Linked DNA regions of Homo sapiens: region 1 is linked to region 2. The links come from fine-mapping of genetic effects on gene expression. A gene starts in region 2. The other region holds a variant in brackets. All regions are shown on one strand. Distances are between the middles of the regions. Region 1 overlaps PTGFRN (prostaglandin F2 receptor inhibitor). Region 2 holds the start of PTGFRN (prostaglandin F2 receptor inhibitor).

Evidence for each region. PIP is the estimated chance that this variant, and not a neighbour inherited with it, causes the effect.
Region 1: its variant is fine-mapped to the expression of PTGFRN in whole blood (TOPMed, PIP above 0.99).

Annotation. Positions count from the first base shown.
Region 1 is chr1:116,926,862-116,936,742 of GRCh38, reverse strand. The region is part of intron 1 of PTGFRN (prostaglandin F2 receptor inhibitor); the gene reads right to left. Among named protein-coding and RNA genes, the nearest start is that of PTGFRN, 22 kb to the right of the region's middle. The variant T/C (reference allele first, on the strand shown) is at 4,968.
Region 2 is chr1:116,905,550-116,915,430 of GRCh38, reverse strand. PTGFRN (prostaglandin F2 receptor inhibitor) reads right to left here and starts at 5,515. Exons shown (of 9, transcript NM_020440.4): 1 at 5,179-5,515. The coding sequence starts at 5,227.

The DNA.
Region 1 (9,881 bases), 21 kb before region 2:
ACTTTAGCTTCATCTCCAACTGTTCTCCCACTCTCTGATGCTTCTATCCCACAAAACAAACATCTCTTCACTTTCTGGAAATGCCATACTCTCTGGTGCTTCATGGCCTCTGCTTTCATGCCTCCATCACCTGGAATACCCTCTCATCCATCTCTTCACCCTCTTGTAAGAAGCAGCTGCAGCACCACCTCCTCTGTGAAGCCTTCCCCAACTCCCCTAGGATCACTTAGGTACTCCTTCCTTCATGTTCCAACTCAACCTGCAAAAGTACCTTCAACATTGGCTATATGATAGCTCCACTGGGAAAAGTAAAGCAGATATGAACAGATGCTTGAAAGATCAAATTCTAATCCGAAAAGATATAAACCTGAGCACTGTCTTGCATGCAGAACTAGGATGTCCCCTCATCCATGCAAATCAAGATCTTAAATTTTGGTAACAGAATTTCAAATTGCCACCAAGCAATCTGGTATTTAGCACAGATTTCTTGTAATATTGTTAAATAACAGCTAATGATATTTAAAAATAAATATAACTTGGAAAAAATAGAGCATATGGCTCTTTTCAAATCAAAAAGAATATCTACATAGCCACATGTTGCCAATTTTTGTCAAAACCTTTTGTAACAGTTGATAACTGAGGGAAAAAGAGGAAAAGAAAGTTTTCCTCTATTTTTCCAAGTTCTACCAGTGTTTCAAACTGAAGGTCCCAAACACTTCTTTACCTGAACTGTATTAGTTTAGTTCCCCATAAAAATGCCGCTACTAAGTAACAATCTTGAATTATGGCTTCATTTGTTTTCAGGAGTCAATATAAGAAACCTTCATACGAAAAACATTTATCAGCCTTAAAAGTCCTATTGAGGACACTACTGGGTTGTTCAATGACACAAAAATTCACATAATAAAATTCCATTAAAATTTAATACCAGAAAAAAAAATACCTGTTGATGGACCATTGTACATTCTTTCAAAAAAACAGGAACTACACAGGTTTCTCTTACCTCTCGGGGCAGTTACCACAGCCTCAGAGTACCTTTGATACCCAAGACAAAATAAGGGCACTTTAACTATCACCTTCATGCAGTGTTTACGTATATGTATGTGTATTTCATTGGAAGTTGACTCAAATATTTGGGGGTGGTAAGCAGAGTTTAAATTTCAAAAGACCAATAATTGAGATTTCTACTTTTAGATTTTTGCTTTTTGCTATCATAGAGTAGCTAATATCAGATCACTCCCCACCCCCTGCCCCCACCCTCACTCCCACTACAGAAACCATAAAAGATAGATAAAAGCTAACTGAATGCAGTGGTGAGCAATCAAGGCAGCCAGGCTCAAGGGTCCAAGATCACAGAAAGATACTGAAGTGGACTCAACAATACCCACTGCCTTTTCTCTTCAGATATTTGCTATTTTTAAGTGGTGCAGGCTAGAAAGCAAGTAGAAGTAAGTAACTCAGAGCTTCCAGCACCTTGTGGGGCCAAGAAGACAACTGAAGTTCAAGGATACTAAGAAGGTCAGAGTTTGAGGAGCAAGATCCTACGAAAAAAAGGCAACAGCAGAGAAGTGAGCTTGACATACTACATTGTTTTCCCCTCAAGGTAACTGACATGAAAGATACATTGAAGGGTATGGGGAGGTGGTAAGTGGCTGAGAAGCTAAGCAGAAAATAAACACTAGGGGGCTAAAGGTTAAGTAAAATTTTTGACCATTTCACAATACGGGGAAACAAAAACTAGAATTCTGAGTCCACAAAGGAAGGTGGTAAACACTCAGATTCTCAGTTACAATCCTGGAAGGGCTATGCTCTTGGAATAAGAGCAAAGCGGAAAAAGCAACTAGCTCTCATCAAGACTAAAAGACAGTCTCAAAGCATCTCAATTCCTCATTGGATAAAGATGAGCTTCTCTTACTCTACTGGCCTGTTAGGAAAAAAGTAAATCTTCTCAGATAGAAGATGACATCATACAAAGCCACTACAATTTTTCAGTGTTCAATTAAAACTTACCAGGTATTCCAGATGACAGAACCAAATAAACAAAAACAAAAGAGAAAAAATAAGACAATAGAAACAGACCTCCAGGGATCCAGATATTGGTTTTATCAGACACAGATTGTAAACTAACTATAATTAATTTACTAAAGAAATAGAAAACAGGATTTCACCCAAACTGAAATATATTGAAACAATCAAATTGAAATTTTAGAACTAAAAAAAAAAATACAATATCCGAAATTAAGAGGTCAATAAATAGGTTTGGCAGCAGATTAGATGCAGCACAGAAGAAGTCAGCAGCCAGGCACAGTGGTTCTCGCCTATAATCCCAGCACACTGGGAGGCTGAGACAGGAGGACTGCTTGAGCCCAGGGGTTCAAGATCAGCCTGGGCAACATAGTGAGACCCTGTCTCTAACAACAACAGAAAAAATTAGCCAGGCATGGTGGCACACATCTGTAGTTCCAGCTACTCAGGAGGCTGAGGTGGAAGGACTGCTTGAGCCCAGGAGATGGAGGCTGCAGTGAGCCATGACTGTGCCACTGTACTCCTGCCTGGGCAACACAGTAAGACCCTGTCTCAAAAAAAAACAAAACAATCACAAAAACAAAACAAAATAAAACAAAAGTCAGTAAAAGTTATCCAAACTGAAGCCCAGGGTATAAAAAAGAACTAAAAAAGCCAGACAAGAATCTATGAGACACAGTAAAAAGGCCAAACATATGTGTCACAGAGGCCCAGAAGGACAGGGAGAGACTGTAGTAGAATTAGGCATAATTTTTGAAGAGATAATGGCTAAGATTTTTCTTAAACCAACAAAAGACATCATGCCACAGATGCAAGATAAGATATGTATCATAAACAGAATAAATACAAATAAAACCACACCTAGGTAAATCATAGCAAAACTACTGAAAGGCAGAGAAAGGAACAGGAATACAACTGATGGCTAACTTTCAACGGAAATGATGCTCATGAGAAGACCACAGAATGACATCTTTAAAGTGATGAAAGGAAGTAACCACCAACCTAGGATTCTATACAGAGAAAAAAAATCCTCAAATAGGAAGGCAACATAAACATGCTTTCAACCAATTCTCAACAAGGGAAAAAGAATTAATTGCACCAAAAATAAGTACTAAAGGGGGTTCTTCAAATAGAGGGAACATAATCCCAGTTGAAATCATGGAAATGTGAGAAGGCAAAGTGAGCAACAGAAAGAATAACTATGTGGGTAAACCTACTGAATATTGACTATAAATACAATATTAGTAATGTCTTCTGGAATTCAAAATATATACATAATTAAAACATATGACATCAATAGCAGAAAAAGTGAGGGGAGGGGTGGAATACATTGGAGCTTAAATGTTGTAAGGTCTTTCATTATCCTGGAAGTGGTAAAAGGATCACTAGTAAACACTAACAGATCACTGATACGTGTTCTAATCTCTAGAGTAACCACAAAAATGAAAGACTGAATAACAAGCTAATTGGTGGGGGAGGGGGAGGGTAGAATAAAAAATACTTGATTAATCAAAGACCCCATAATTTCAGCTAAAATCATATAAGCATTTCTCATAGTATTTATTTCATGATGTATTCAGTTTGATTTACTATCAAGTCTCCCAGTCTCTCTCCACAACAATATTAGAATCGAGTAAGAGGAAGAATAATAATGTACAGTGTTTCTTACATGGCATGCACTGACTGACTGAGCCAGGCACTATCCACAAATTGTCTTAATCCACAGAAGACAACCATAAGGTAGCTATTACCACCCCTATCACAGATATGAGGAAATTGAGAATCAAAGAAGTTGAATAACCTCCTGAAGGTCATAACAGCTATAACGTGAGGGACTCAAACCCAAACTTGATAGTGCAGCATAAGCCAAAGATAGGTCGGATTTCGTTTGCCTTCAATTGCATTATATATTATCATCCTCTGTTGATTTTTTGTCTTTAATCTGAGTAGGAAAAAGAAACAGCTTAAAATTCCCTATATTTCATATTCTCCATGGGCAATGGAACCAAGATAGGCAGCAAAGTAACACAGAAATGAGTCACTGAAAGAAGAAATATTATATATTTTCAATGTGAAGTAGACAGATGAGAGAATAGAAGAAACTGGATTGTTAAAAATTTCTTCAAAAATTTTTCTGATGTACTACCTTTGTTATTTTAAGTGATACCAACTTTAACACCACGCATATTTATACTCAAAAATGGTGCAGAGAACTTTATTCCAAAATCATACAGGAGGGACTTTTAGAAGTCCTCTGCTCTGACTTCTCAGCAGTAGAAAATTAACAACCAAGAGTTAATTGTTTCCCGATTACCATTTCCCTACCTCTGGAATACTCAAGAAAGTAATTAAATGCCTTCGACTTTCTTCTATCAGGTGGAATCGATGGGGACAGGTAGAAAAAGGCAAGTTCTTCAAAGTAAACAACTACTCCTGCAATGTTTATTTAAATAAGTGCTATTGCCAACCATGAGGAATCATTAAGAAAGACAAGGCAATGAAGACTACACTTCATTTATCTATGCTTTTCCACCTCCTTCTGATATCCATGGGAAATGGATTTTATTTCTCAGGTTATCATCAACATTATTCTAAATCAAGACCTGCAGAGTATAGCATATTTGCTAAAAATTCTTGCAATTGTTTCTATTTCTGCTCAAATTTTATTATTTCACTGAGCTGCCTAGAAGCAAACAATCTGACTTTCCAATCTGAACCATTTGTAAGATAAGTATCAGCAGTTATTGAATCCAGTGGTACAGGTGAGTTGAAATGCTGAAACTAAAGAGGTTATGGTTTTCAGCATGCCTTGTAAATGGGTGCCTAATTCCCACTTCCCGAGTCCTTACAAGGCTTTTAGGAGAGACTCGGGGCCTATGGATTGCCACATGGAGTTCCCAGTCCACATATGAGCTAGAAATGAATGCACAGAAAGTCAAACT[T/C]ATAAAACCTTATAGTGCCTTTATTGGAGTACCTGACTCAACAAATGAAAAACCTTTGTCTCCTCAAGTCTGCCACTGAGAGGTCTGACAGGAAAGGATCATGCCAACTTTCATCTAGACAGTCCCTAAGTCATGAAAATGCAGCAAGGCACATTAAACAAGCTATAGACAGCAGAGAATGTGTAATGAAGTCACATATGGCAGAACTTCAAAACCCCATCCAGAAGCAAATAAGGTTCTACTAGAACAGTGCTTATAATCATTAAAAAAAAAAAAAAAGAAAAAGTTCAGCTAAGACCTCACTGAGATACACTAGACAAATGTAAGATAAGATAACTCATTCAACACACAGCTACTGAGCAAAAAGTCCCTGTGCTAGGTGATAAGTGAGAGTGAAAGGTTAGTCAGCTTGTGGATCTTCTTTTAAGGCACGTATGGTATGCTAAGAGTCAGGAGGTGTGGAACAGTGCAAACTGTCATACAGGCTGTATATCCTTTATTCAAAACGTTTGGGACCAGAAGTGTTTGGGATTTCAGATTTTCAAATATTTGCATTCCTACCAGTTAAGGATTCCCAATCTGAAAATCCAAAATCCAAAGTGCTCCAACGAGCATTTCCTCCGAGCATGACCTCTGAGCAACGTATCAGTGCTCAAAAAGTTTCAGATTCTGGAGCATTTCCAATTTTGGATTTTTGAATTAAGGATGCTCAACCTGTATAAGGAAGGATATAAATAATCAAAGAGATGCACTAACAGGTGCCTCAGGGGTCAAAAGAGAATGAGGACATTTCCATCCAAAGGGATTCATAAAAAGCTTCATGCAGTGTCAATATTCGAATTTGGCCTTTGAAAAATGGTTGGATGAGGGGGAGGTTTAACAGAAGACATGAAGGAGGAAAGTGACCAGAGATAAGGGGTGTAGCATAAGCAAAGACCTAAAGGGGCCACGGGGGACACAGGCAGGTAGTGGTGAAGACAGGGTGACTAAAACAGTGTATCAAGAGCAGACTGGAGAGGAGACATGGAGGCCCAGAGATCATTCAGGGACCCTCTATCAATGGTGGGGAGAGGTAATAATAATGAAAACAAGGGCAATGACAGGAATCAAAAGGCAGCAGCTCTGAGAGCCACAACAGAGGAAGGGTCAACTGGTAGACCTGTGAGGGGAGACAGAAGCCAAAGGGAAGCTAATCACTGGTGAAATCTATTTTCTTATAGTAAGATTTTGACCAGTAGAAATGTCCACCGGACAGTTGGAATGGAAACCCCTAGAAGATATTTGAGCCTAACATCAATGTGGAGTCACATGCACGGAGGGAGTGGGGGGTAAAAAGGAAATCTGCCCAGCAGTGAAGACGTGGGAGTCGATGACACCATCGGGAGACAGATTACTGTATAGAAAAGAGGGAATGGGACAAAACCACAGCAAAGTCCTATGTTTAAGGCATGAGCAGAAGAAAAAGAGTCAGCACAGAAAAAAGAAATAGTAACCAGTTAGGAAGAAAACCAGGAAAGGCTTATGCCCTAGCAGCCAAGGGATGCAAGAATTTCAAGAAAGGGTTTGAAGTAACACTTACTGTTTCTTTATGAACATTACTCATCTACTTGCTCCTGGCAGACTGCAAGCTCCTTTAAAGCAGGAGCTGTTTCCTACCCATATCTGCATCCTGCACAATATCTAAAGCAGACTCCTACTATATGCCTTTGTTTGAAAAAAATGAACAACAATGTCAAACATGCAGAAAAGTCAAGGAAGGTGGGTGCTGAGAAAAGAGAAATGAACTGATGGCTAAGTAATCACTGGCAACCTCCAGGAAAGCGCATTTTCAATGACGGGTATGGGATCTGGAAAGTAAGAGCCAGGAGAGAAGGAACAAAGATGTAGGGAAGAGAAGGCACAACCATGAAAAAGGCACTGAAGCAGCAAGCAGGGGGTTCATCCTGCAAAGTCAGCCAGTCAGTCCCCCAAAGCACCTTCTAGGCACTGGGGACACATGGCCACCAGTCCCTGCCTGCAAGAAAACTGTGTTCTAGGAAAGAGACAGTGATGAAGTAGACCCACTGACAAATGCTATTCAGTTAAAATATGACAATATGAAGTGTGGTCAGGAAAGGCCTCTCTGAGAGGGTCATGTCTGAGTTTAGACCAGAATGACGAAGAGACAGTGATTGAAGCTCTGGGGCAAAACTGCTCCAGACACAGAACAGCAAATATAAAAGCACTGTGATGGAGCAAGCTTGGGTGTTTAAAGTACAGAAAAAAAAGATCACTGTGACTGATCACAATGAATGAGGGGGCAGGGGCCCTGGATTCTGGTTGAAATGGGAAGCACATCAACGAGAAAACGATAGAGCCTACTTTCTTTGTAGAAATTTCAGTCTGACTGCTGTGGGAAAGACAGATTATATGGGGCCAATTTGGAAGCAAGGACACCAGCATGGGGGAAGTTTCTGTAGACCAAGCAAAAGCTGATGAACACCGGCCTTGGTTGACAGTGGTGGTGACTCTCAGGAGTAGTCAGATTCAGGACTTAACTTGTGTATGAATGAAAAGACAAACTGACTTTTTGAATGTGGGGAATGAAGAAGAGAGCAATCAAGAATGATCTAGGCTTCTGGCTTGAGCATCTGGCATACAGGGTGATGCCACTTACTGAGACAGCAAAGTAATTAGAGGGAAGCAAATCTGTACCAAGGAAAGCAAGAGTTGTCTTCTGGTCATTTTAAATGTGAGGTCCCTATCAGACACCAAGTGGAAGTGCAGTGGAGTAGGCAGCTGGATGTTTAAGTCTGGAGCTCAGTGGGGAGGTCCAAGCTGGAGATACTCACTAGAGAGTCATCAGCACACACAGAGTATTTAAAGCCACAGGTTGCCTGGGGTCACTTGGGGAAAGAATACACATAGAGAGGAAAAAGAGCCAAAGATAGAGCCCTTACTTTTTTTCAGGTTAGACAGAGAAAAGGAGTAAAAATATTAAAAAGTTTTGAGGCAAAAGCTTGAGGTTTCTTTGGTCTCTATTGTCTCAGTAAAATAGTAGAAAGGAGTTCAGATGCTAAAGATCCTGACAAAGGTTTAGAATAAGCATCAGAAGAAATATAATAGGAAACCATCACAAAAGGAACACAAAGGAGAGCTGAGCTGCGGTAAAGATGCCAGGACTTTGCTGGAATCTCAGATGGGCAGACTTTGAGATTTTCCCCAGCAAGATAATAAAGTTCAGGCTTACAAACTACGATTGGTGTGAATTACTGAAATGTAATACAATGTGAGGTCTGGCAAAGAAATATGACAGAGGGTCCCAGGTTGTTAACAAGCTCACTGCTGAAATGCTGACCACCAGAGTCTACCCTGGATTCAGAGCCAAGTAAAGTGAGAATGGCCTGATGGACTGAAAAGGAAGAATGTTCAAAATCAGGGAATCACAATTAGGATGAAGAATAGGTTCAACAGATAGGAGGGAATCTGAAAGGAGTAAAGCAAGGAGGTTGTGGTCACAGAGGGAAATATCAGAATTGACAATCAAAAAGGTGAAAGAATACTAAGTGATGACAAGGCCCAGGTGTGGCCATTAAATCTCACAAAGTCTGTTATTTTTTCCAGGGGCTAAAATTATCATAGCAGGCACTCTCTGAGTCCTCGTTAGCCTGTGCCTGGCTACAGAAACACGAGGAAGGGGCAGTGTGACCAACAGGCCACAGGGGGTAAGAAGGGTGGTCCAGAGACTTAAATCTTGTTTCTAATTGACATTTACATGGCAGTTCTGGCTCTAATGTTATCTATCCTGCCATTTATATCTGGAAATCTTCTTTCAGCCTTCATACGCATGTTCTCCAAATCAAACAAGATTAGAAAGGAGGCGACAAAGACTTTGCATTTCATCAGTACTGACAGGCTCTTCAAAGTCAATGCAACTTTTCTTAGTTTTTGCTGCCAAGACAACCATTACCTCCTGCATCACACCTGTAATCCCAGCACTTTGGAAGGCTGAAGTGGGAAGATGGCTTGAAGCCAATAGTGCAAGACCAGCCTGGGCAACATAGATCTCGTCTCTATAAAAAAAAAAAAAATTTAATTAGCTGGGCATGGTGGCATGTGCCTATGGTCCTAGCTATTTGGGAGGCTGAGGCAGGAAGATGGCTTGAGCCTGGGAAGCAAAGGTTGCAGTGAGTCATGATTGCACCACTGCACTCCAGCCTGGGCAACAGGGAACAGGTCGAGACCCTGTATCAAAAAAAAAAAAAAAAAAAGGTAAGCAAGGCAGAAAGACATACAGTGCCACCAACAAGTGAGGAACAAAAATGCACGGTACTTCTTCAAGACTGGATCATTAACTAACTGAATTCCTTCTTACTAGTAAAGCACTAGATCATATAACTATGACATTGCTTCCAGTTTTGTGGCCTTTGAGAGATCCTGGGAGGCCAGAACCATGTCAAACCTTTAATTCTACATTATGAAATTGTGAGGTTTTGTCACCTGGCTAAGCTGGAACTACATATCCCAGAATCCTCTTATCTGTGTAGTTCCAGGTTAGGGTTGGACAAAATAGAACTTCATGTCAGATTTGGGAGATGGAAGTCAAGCGGCAGCCATTACTTTGGTATATGGCTCGTGGTTAAAGGCAGTGTGGGACAGATGTGAAGGTGCTAGTAGACACCCGTTTGTCCTTGCTCTTTCTGCTTCTGTTTTCTTCCCAAATGCTATTCTTATGGACCAACATGACCCCAAGACCACTAGATGCTTGGCTGCAATCTCGGGGCTAAGTGATTACCCTTCTTCAGAACCCTAAACCAGCCCACTCTGCCTGGTTTCCAGATTCCTCTTCACGCTTCAACTTGTCCACCTGCCAGTGCTTCAAGACAGCTGACTAGTGACTTTTCCTTGATACTTTAACTCTCCTTTTTAGGCCTT
Region 2 (9,881 bases):
GCTGGATGGATTCACTAGGGTTCCTCCCACTGGCCTTCCTCCTCCTTCAGTGCTTTCCAGAGGCAGTTGCATTTCGGCCCGTCCTCAGAGCCGGCATGGCCACCTGCTAGGGTTGCAGAGATGCCACACCTCTGAGGTGCATGCTGGCACTGCCCTTCCCTTCAGGAAGTGTACCTGGGCTGCACTAACCCTGGATCCTCCTATTTTTAAATGCACTTTCACTTTCAAACCACTATCATCTTTCTTCACCTAAGCTAATCTCAAGCAATACGCAGCATAAGGTTTAGCGAACATTAGTAAACTTTTCCTTAGCAGAGACAGAATGGAGTCCTGAGATCAGATCCTAGGTCTGCTAGGAAGAATCTGTATGTCTCTAGACAAGTTAACTAACTTTTCTGGGCATCAGTTTCCTTATCTGTAATAAAGACAAAATAGTGACTTTCTCAAAGTATTGTTGTGAGGAATAAATACCAGAATGTACGTCAGAGCCTGACGCTTGATATGCAATCGAGAAATAGTAGCTATTATTAGTCTGTGCCTATTAGGTGCAGAGCCTTGTACAGAAGCTATGAGGAAAAAAAAACAAAATACTCAGTATGCAGAGACACACACACGTTAGGCAGGAGTGGCTGTGCCTGGGCAGGAGGGTGGACACATTTTTTTCCTTTTTTTTTTTTGAGACAGGGTCTCGCTTTGTTACCCAAGCTGGAGTGCAGTGGTGCGATCACGGTCCCCTACAGCCTTGACCTCCCAGACTCAAGTGATCCTCCCCACTCAGCCTCCCAAGTAGCTGGAACCACAGGCACATGCCACCATACCCGGCTAACTTTTCTTATTTTTTAGTAGAGATGGGGGTCTCACTATGTTGCACAGGCCGGTCTCGATCTCCTGATCTCAAGCAATCCTCCCACCTTGGCCTCCCAAAGTGCTGGGATTGCAGGCATGAGCTGACCTGTTTAGCCCAGATTTTTCTTTTGACCTTATATCCTTTGTAAGTAACACAGAGACTGTTAGCTGTTCCCTCAAAATCTGTCTTTCCCTTCTTCCATAGTAGCTGGCACATGGCTTCCCAGCTTTCCTTACAGCTAGTGTGGCATGGGCCCAAAGTCTCTCCAATAGAACGTGTGCAGAAATGATGTGTGCCACTTTCAAGTCTGACCCACAAAGACTCCAAATATTCTACTCTACGCTCTTTCCTCCTTTGTAGGGGCTGGAATGGTGATGACGACTACCAAAGTGATCTTAGAAACTGTGAGTTGAAGACAGCAGAACTGCCACCAGCTGGGGAGCCAGAATGACTGTGTAAAGCAGGGTTCCCACCCAACCCTTTCCTCTGAAGCATCTCCCTCGCATTGTTATATAAGACACATCTATTGTCTGAACCACTATGCTTTGAGTTTGTTAGAGCAGTTTAGCCTACCTGATTAATACAAAGTCCTTTTATATCATTTGAATTTTAAAATACAGATGTAATGCTTTTGACACTTAAAAAAGTATCTCAATAGATTTGCAAAAATAAAGACATAAAGAGAATGTGTTAATCCCACCCTACAATCTCCATGCCTTCTACTCTCCAATTTATGTTGCACTAGTTGAGGGTTTATCCTCCTCAACACATTACCCTGTCCTGTTAATCTCGCCCTACAAACTTTTAATGGCTACCCATTCCCACAGATAAAATGACATATGTAAGTATTCAGTCAGCCAATATGTATCAAACAACCAGTATGAGTTATATATCCTATTCGTAATAGGGACATTGTAGTGAACAAAATCAACGTGGCCCCTGCCCCCAGGGGAAACAATCAGAGTAGGGAACAATTACATACAATGAAGGAAATATATGCTCTGATGACAGGGCACAGACTGGCTGGCAGCACCCAGAGCACCAACAAATCTACCCCTCCCAGTCCAGACTCCTTAGCACAGCATGCAAAACCTACAGGATCTATCCCAAACCCACCTTTCCTCCCCCATTATTTCCTCCTCCCCCAAATAATTGCACCCCCATTATTTCCTCCTCCTCCCAGCTCCAGCTACAGGGAACTTACGTGCCATTTCTCAATGAGCCATGTACTTTCACTCATCCACACTTTAGGCTTTTCCCCAGAGCCCAGAATGCTCTTCTATCCTTTCTTTCAAAATTCTAATTATCCTCAAGGCTCAACTCAAATGTCACTTCTTCAGCAAAACCAGCCCCAACCCCCAAGTCAAAATTAATCATCCCCTTCCTTGTTTCCCACACTTGGTTTCCATGTCAGGTATTTCATTCAGTCCTGTGGTTAGCTATTTTATTCTCTGTCTACTCACACCCACCAGCCGCTCAGGGAGATGCTGTGTCTTTGTCATTTGTCTGGGACTCCCAGTATTGAACACACAGTTGCACACAGAGTGGCCACTCAAGAAATGCCACATTGAGTGGATGGGCAAGACAGGTCAGACATAGGCAATGGATGTGAAACCTGCTCTATGTGGCTGGGTGGGTTCTGGTGTGATCATGGTAGGTAGGCTTAGGAAGGCTTCATGGAGAAAGTGAGTTTCAAGGGAAAAAGGAAATATTAATACGCAGGCAAGAGGTGAGAAGTAGAAGGGGCCAGAAGGTTTAATATAGTCTACATAAAGGAGAGCAAACAGGTTAGTTGGAACGAAGTGTCTGAGCCAGAGAAGACCAGAGGGGAGGGACACACAAGGGGCAACATCTCCTTGGAGGAAACTCATAAGGACACAGTGAGAACAGGTGGGAGCCCCAAAAATGATCATTTAGGAAAAGGATGAGCTTAAAAGGGAGGCTGGAGGAAATAATCAACCAGGAAGACACCAACTGTGTGGGAAACAATCAGGACCTGGGCTAAGACAGTAGCCGTAGAAACAGGAAGGAAAGAAAGAAGCTGGAGTCTGTGGTACGGGGAGAGCCAAGAATTGAGAGACTACGTGAATATGGAGGTCAAAAAGAGCAGCGATACCACGATTATACCCAGGTTACACCCCAGGAGGAAAGATGATCTTGTTTATCAACATATTACATTTCAGGGATCAGTACAGTGCCAGAGCAGTGTAACACAGCGAGACCTTCCCAGAGGTCAGGCTGAAGCCACACCGAGTGAGATTCTGTGACAGCAGAGTTATCAGGAGGGTCATCAATGGTTCAGAGAACTGTTAGGTGAAAAGGTACTGGCTGGTGACACCACAGAAATTCCCTGTGTAATTCATAGGAGGCATCCAGCCAGGACAGGATATGCTGGAGTACAATCAAGATTTCCCCAAGCTGTGCTTTCCCCACTTCTATTTTGTTTTTGTCAGTCTCTCTTTGCCCCCTCCCCTCTTCTCCCTTCATTATTACTCAAGGGCATTGTTTTCAAAGTTCTACCTCATCCCACCCTCATAACTGGTACCCAGGTTGTTCAGAGAACTGCACAGCTCTAGGGGGAGTTATTCACACAGACTACAAAGTGAACAGCAGCTCCCGAAGTTGTACAGTGCACCATCTGTGCAAACCTAGGCCATGGCCCTGCTTGACCCAGACACATAAAGTCAATTAATGTGTGTGGACTATAACAGCAGTGCGCCACTAACATACAACTTACAAGGGTCCCAGAGTGAAAAGTAAAGATTAAAAGCACTACCACCGGGTGTGGTGGAGCATGCCTGTAATTCCAGCACTTCAGGAGACTGAGGTGGGAGAATGACTTGAGCCCAGGAGTTTGAGGCTTCAGTGAGCTGTGGTTGTGCCATTGCACTCCAGACTGGGTGAAAGACTGAGGCTTTGTTTCAAAAATAAAAATAAAGCACTAGGATCAGGGACTATAGAAAAGATGCCATAAAACTAAGTGGAAGATCTGGAAGCTTTCTGCACATGGGCTGAAGCTGAAGCAATGTGGCTGGACGAGCTCTCTGAGGGAGTCAGTTCAGAAAATCCCTTCAAGGTGAAGGAAGAAAACACAGCAGCCAGCAAGGCTGGTTCATCAGCAGCAGGAGTCATGGGGGTTACAGCAGTGTGGGCCCCGGTGTCCCCAGCAGGGGAGTAGCTATAGAAGGCCTCCTCTGGAACCCTCTGACCATAAGTGCAGAGTAATCATTTGCCCTGTGTGCAGCTGGGACCTGAATGGCACGGACACCGCACATCATGCGCTCTGTGAAAGACTCAGAGCCGCCTTCTCTAGGGGCTTGGAAGAGAACCCCAGGCCAGGTCACAGGAATCATCTTGTCCTGGTTGACACTGACAACAAGGATCCAAGAATATCAAAACATTTAAGAGTCGGCCCTGGGGTACCATGGTGGGCACTTAATAAACATATTTCCGTGGCTGGCTAGGATCACCATGTGGATCTACGTGAAGATGGTGTCTGTGTATGGAGTGAATGGAAAATGGAGAGGGAAAAAACCCACAAAAGATTCCTTGGGTGGGGGGAGGGCGCTGGGCCAAAACCTCACGGGGCACCCAGGGTTTCCGGAGGGTGGAAGACGAGGGGATAGTAAGGGAGGGAAAGTAACAGGTAGAAAAAGTTGGAGAAGCCAGGCTTTTAGGTCTTTGTGTATAAATACGCAGCTAGGCAGCTTCAAGAAAAGCTAAAAGAAAAGACTGAGGCAGAAGATCTAGCCACGACGAAAATGACGGCAGGACTCGCCCGCCGATTTCCATTGTAACGCTCCGGGCCACCCTGTGACCTTCGTGGAAGGAAGTTGGAGGATTCTCTCGCTTCCCTGGAAAGGCAACTCCGCGCGGGTTGGGTGAAGAGCGACCCGGCCGGCGGCGGCTATGGCGGGGCATATCAAAGGCTCACATTTCCGCTCTCGAGCCGAGGACCCGGGCCGGGACCGCAGCACCTTCCGGGCCGGGAGTTCAAGGTGAGCCGGGCTCCCGGCGGCCAACAGGTAGGGAGACCTGGGGGAAAGACGGCCCCGGGCCACTCCCCCCGGCACATGTTGGGGGCGAGGCTCGGCCTGGCGGAGCGGCCACTTGCACCCCGCGCGCGGGGCCCGAGCGGATTCGCGCCAGGCTCCGGGCGGCCCCGCGGCCGCTCCCCGCCGGGCCGAACAACCCGCGCACCCCGGCCGGGTTTCCCGGGAGCAGCCCGGGCACCCTCGGCGCCCCAGGCCGCGCGCTGCAGCCGCGCCCCGCCGAGCCCTCCAGGGCCTCGCCAGTCCCCGTGTGCCCCGCTGAGCCCCGCGCACACTCACCCAACGACAGGAGCGCCAGCAGCAGCGGCCTCGAGGCCAGGCGCCCCATGCTCGCCCGGCGGGAGCGACTCTCCCCCTCCTCCTCCTTCCCCGCCGCCTCTCCTCCTCCTCCTCTTCCAGCTCCGGCTGCTCCAGAGTCGGCGCTCCTCCGCCTGGGCCGCGCGCCTGCTCCGCTCTCCTCGCGAGCCGATAAATCCCAGCGCTGGGGCGTACGTGCGCCCCTGGCTCCGCTCGCTCCCTCCCGCCTCCTTCCCTCCCTCCTCCAGCCGGCCGGGCCCGGGAGCCGGCCCCGCCGATCCGAGTGTGCAGCCCCGACCGCTTCCCGAAAGCAGAAGGGAAGAACCGCAGCGCCCGCCCGCGCCTCCCATCCGGCGCTTTGCCAGCAACAAACACAAACTTTCCCAAGCCCCTCCCCGCTCCAGGTAACGGAGGAAGAGCCGGGGCCACCCGCTTAAAGGCGAGGAGGCGTCGGAGCCCACCCTGCCATCCCCTCTGGGCCCCCACCCCACGAGAAACTTTCCTCCGACCTTTAAAAGTTGGCCTGGGAAAGACTCGTCTGGAAATCCCATCGCTTTAGCCCTATCCCGGGACACCCCGCGTTCCATCACGCTGGAGTCACCCACGCGTGTCTAGTCTATCCTCAGCCAACTCCCCGCTCGTTCGGCCTCTCGTCCTGAGCTAAACACCCCACCAACCAGCCGCTTGGCCTATGCCAAAAATTATGCAGATAGGAGCGAAGGAGCTGAAAGGACTTTTAAAGGCCACGGATTCCAACCTCTACCATACAGAGGCCTTAAGTGTTTCGGTGAGGTGCCCAAGGATTCACAGGGAAGGGGCAAAATCAGAACCCCGCTCTCCTGACTCTGCCCACTCCCCGGTGGCTAGGGTGGGCCTGTCTCCTTCCTTACCCAGCTCCCTCCCTCTCCTCGGCGCCTGTGGCACTGATTAGAACAGCACCCCACAAAGACACCCATTTAAAAAACAAACAAAACCCAAGTGTATTAATAGCTATAGTACTTCATATAGAATGTACTCTTAAGACTTAATATTTATTGCTCTAAGTGGACACCACTGATTGCCAATAAAGACTCATTTTTCCCCCTACAATAGAGTTTTGTGCTTTTGATTTGAATACAAAAGGCCCGACTTGGTTGGGAGAAATGGAGCATTCCTTGCTTGAAACTTAGCAAGCATGATTCAAACACGCAAGGAGCAGCACTGGTGCCCACTGCCCGTCACTGGGCTTTCATTCACATGCAAAACGGATCGCAGATGCTTATGCGGAAACTGCCCACACTGGGGAAGAACACTGCTTTTACTCTCATGCATCCGTCTTTCAACCAACAAATGTTTCTTATTTCCCCACTATCAAATGTGTGATTAGCCAGGTATCTTTGGAAAGAGACTTAAAAATTCATTCCTGGTGGTGCAACGTTATTGTACTTAATGCCACTGAATGGTACACTTAGAAATGTTTAAAATTGCCAGGCCTGGTAACTGGTACTTGTAATGCTAGCTACTCAGAAGGCTGAGGTTGGGGGGGCAGGGGGAGGCGGGGGGCAGGGATGGTGTTGCTTGAGGCCAGGAGTTTTTATTTGTTTTGTCTTCTTTCTTTCTTTCATTTTTGAGACAGGGTCTCAAAATGAGGATCTGTCACCCAGGCCGGAGTGCAGTGGTGCGATCAGGGATCACTGCTGCCTTGACCTCCCAGGCTCAAGCAATCCTCCCACCTCCACCTCTCAAGTAGCTGGAACCACAGATGTGTGCCACCACACTCTCGCTAATTGTTTTTATTTTTTGTAGACACTGGAGTCTCCCTATGTTGGCCAGGCGGGTCTCGAGCTCCTGGGCTCAAGCGATTCTCCCGCCTCGGCCTCCCCAAAGACTGGGATTACAGGTCTGAGCCACTGGGCTGGCACTTTTTCTTCTTTTTCTTTTTTCTTTCTTTTTTTTTTTTATTTGAGGCTAGAAGTTTGAGACCACTCGGGCAACATTGTGAGACACCGTCTCTAAAAAAAAATTTTTAAGGTTAAAATGGTAAATTTTGTGCTATGTACATTTTACACAATAATTTTTTTAAAATTTATTTCTGCCGCCAAGCCTTTCCTGGTTCTGTTCATACACACTGTAATTCCTTTCTCTTCCCCATCCCAATTCTTCCCTAGAATCTCGCAGGGAAGTTTCCCAATTTCATTCAATCAACCTTGAATTCAAGCCTAATGTTAGGCCTTGGAAGGTAGTGGAGCTTCAGAGAAATGTGAGGCCTGGCACCTTCAGAAGCTCAGATTTCAGCTCATCCTCCATCTTTCCTTTTCTTAACCACCCAGAACGCTTAATGTTTGAACCACACATTGTGGCACTTGGTCACATTCAGTTTAGCAAAATGTATACACTACCCCCATCTCTGTCTAATAATGCATGGGCCTAAGAGGCTGTCACATTTTCACCTTGTATCCCACCTTATGGCAGAGTAGATGTTTTAAAAATTCTTTTGTTTAATAAACAATGTGTGTCAGGGACTGTGCCTAGCACATGGTAGGTCCCAATGTATATTTATAGAGTGAATTAATGGCAGACACTGGGCTAGATCCTGGGGGTACAGGGATGAAGCAGACAGTTCTTGCCCTTGAGGAGTCGACATTTTGTGCATTGTGATTGCATATGCAAGGTAGAGTTGTGACACCACAAGGGAGCGGCCAGTCCAGGAGGAGGCTGTCAGAGAAAGCTTCACAGAGGGGATGACTATGCAACGAGTCTTGAAAAATTGGTAGGTCTTTAGCTGTGGAGTGTAAGGATAAGCTTACAATAGATGTTGTGTATTTAATATGATAGAGATTCTTCTCACCTCACCCACCCCCAGGTATTATTAAATTAATGGTGTATCTTACAATCATGGAAATAACAGTGGTTAACCATTGAAATGATGAGAATAAATAAAATTGTCTAGGTAAGGCAGGTAGAATGAGGACTGAAGTGGGTAGCCTGCTGGTGGCTGGCAGTTAAATGTCATGGGAGTTAACCAAAGAGCCACTTTTGTAGCAAAAAATAAGCATAAATTAATAAGTCTAGACTGTTGGTTATAACCACCACACCCTTTGCACCTTCCTGACTACCAATGGATAAAGGAAGAAACACAGCAGACTGGCACAATTTGTTAATTCATGACTCTGGAATCTGATGATGCTTTTACTATGAAAGATATTTATTTACCAGAGTGAGTAACCTTCTATACAGGTAAGGCTTTTGCCCCAACCAGTTGTTCTCCTATCTTAGTCTATAGGCTTGCCTGGGGCAGGAAGACTCACTCTCCAGCAATTCTAATTGATTCACGCCCACCCCCAAGGAGAGTACCGACATGGGTTTCTTTTCTCCAATCATAGTGCCCCCAAGGGGCACTGGTCACAGCAGTCCGACATTATGGTCTTTTGGTCACACATGTCTTTCTGCAGGTGATACCCCTAAAACCTCACAAGAGTCCTCATACTGTTACGCCAAACAAGTTTTCCCTGCTGAGATCAGGCAAAAACATCATCATGTTATTTAACTTTGTGAATGAAAATGTTAAAAGGTTCCCAGTGAATGAAATTGCTGATTGTTCTAAGACTCACCTAGACTTGGAGTTGTTGGCCCTGCCACCTCTGGCAGCCTGTACACGCACACAGTCTCCAAATGACCCTGACCCCTACCTACTTCAGCAGGGGCTCAGGGGAAGGAGTATATTCCATGGCACCGTTTCATTCCACTAATCATTTTCACTCACAGTCTTCCTTGTTCTGTGTCCAGATGTATATTTTCCCAGTTAAAGTTAAACAGAGATTACTAAACAAAAAGAAATTTAGGATTATATTATAGAATTAGAAAATGAAATTAAAAGTTAGAAAGGGAGGGGTGGGAAGAGGAGGCCTTTATTTCCCCACGAGTGAGAGTCCTGCAATACTGGTGAGATTAGTGGGGAAGCTGTAGAATGCTCATGTGACAAGTTTGAAAACAGCAAGGGACCTCATCTGTTTGGTATGGGCTAAGCAGGGTCCTGCCTGAGGGCTGGTCCTGCTCGTCACCACCCAACTATCAATTCTCCCCATCTTTTCTTCAGCCCTAAAAGACTGAAGTGGGACATGGTGGAGAAAGTGTTCTTAAATGACTTAGAACTGTTCCAGATTCCACCTCCACCAGGCCAAAAGTGCCTCCCTGGGAAGCTACCCCACATAGCATCACGCCTGCAGGAACACTGGGGTGGAGAAGTGTGAGGAGAAAATAAGGAATTGGATGGAGGTGAGCCTTTGGCAATAAAAGCTCTCCCCAAGACTGAGGCTATTTCCTATGTTACGAGCAGACAGGGCCCTTGCCCTGGAGGGGCTTATCATCTAATTTAATGCATGAAAAACCTGGAATACAGTGAAGGACGGGGAGGAGATGGAAACCACAAGAGCAAAGGAATTGAAAGAAAGGTAAATGGATAAGAGAGACACAAGCCATTATGTGTTGTATTCTGCAAATATGCCATCATCTGGGCTGAAAGTATCTCTTAAATGAATGGAGACAGCAGTCCCTTGTGCAAAAGAGGGGCTAACACATTAGAAATAGTTGCAGGCACTATGGATGTTGGAGTAAGTTCTTTACCTAAGGTCATGGCTGCCAAGTAGGATGGTGCCCAAGGGTGCCCCATCGAGCCAACATTGTGCCCTGTCTCTGACCTGCTATGC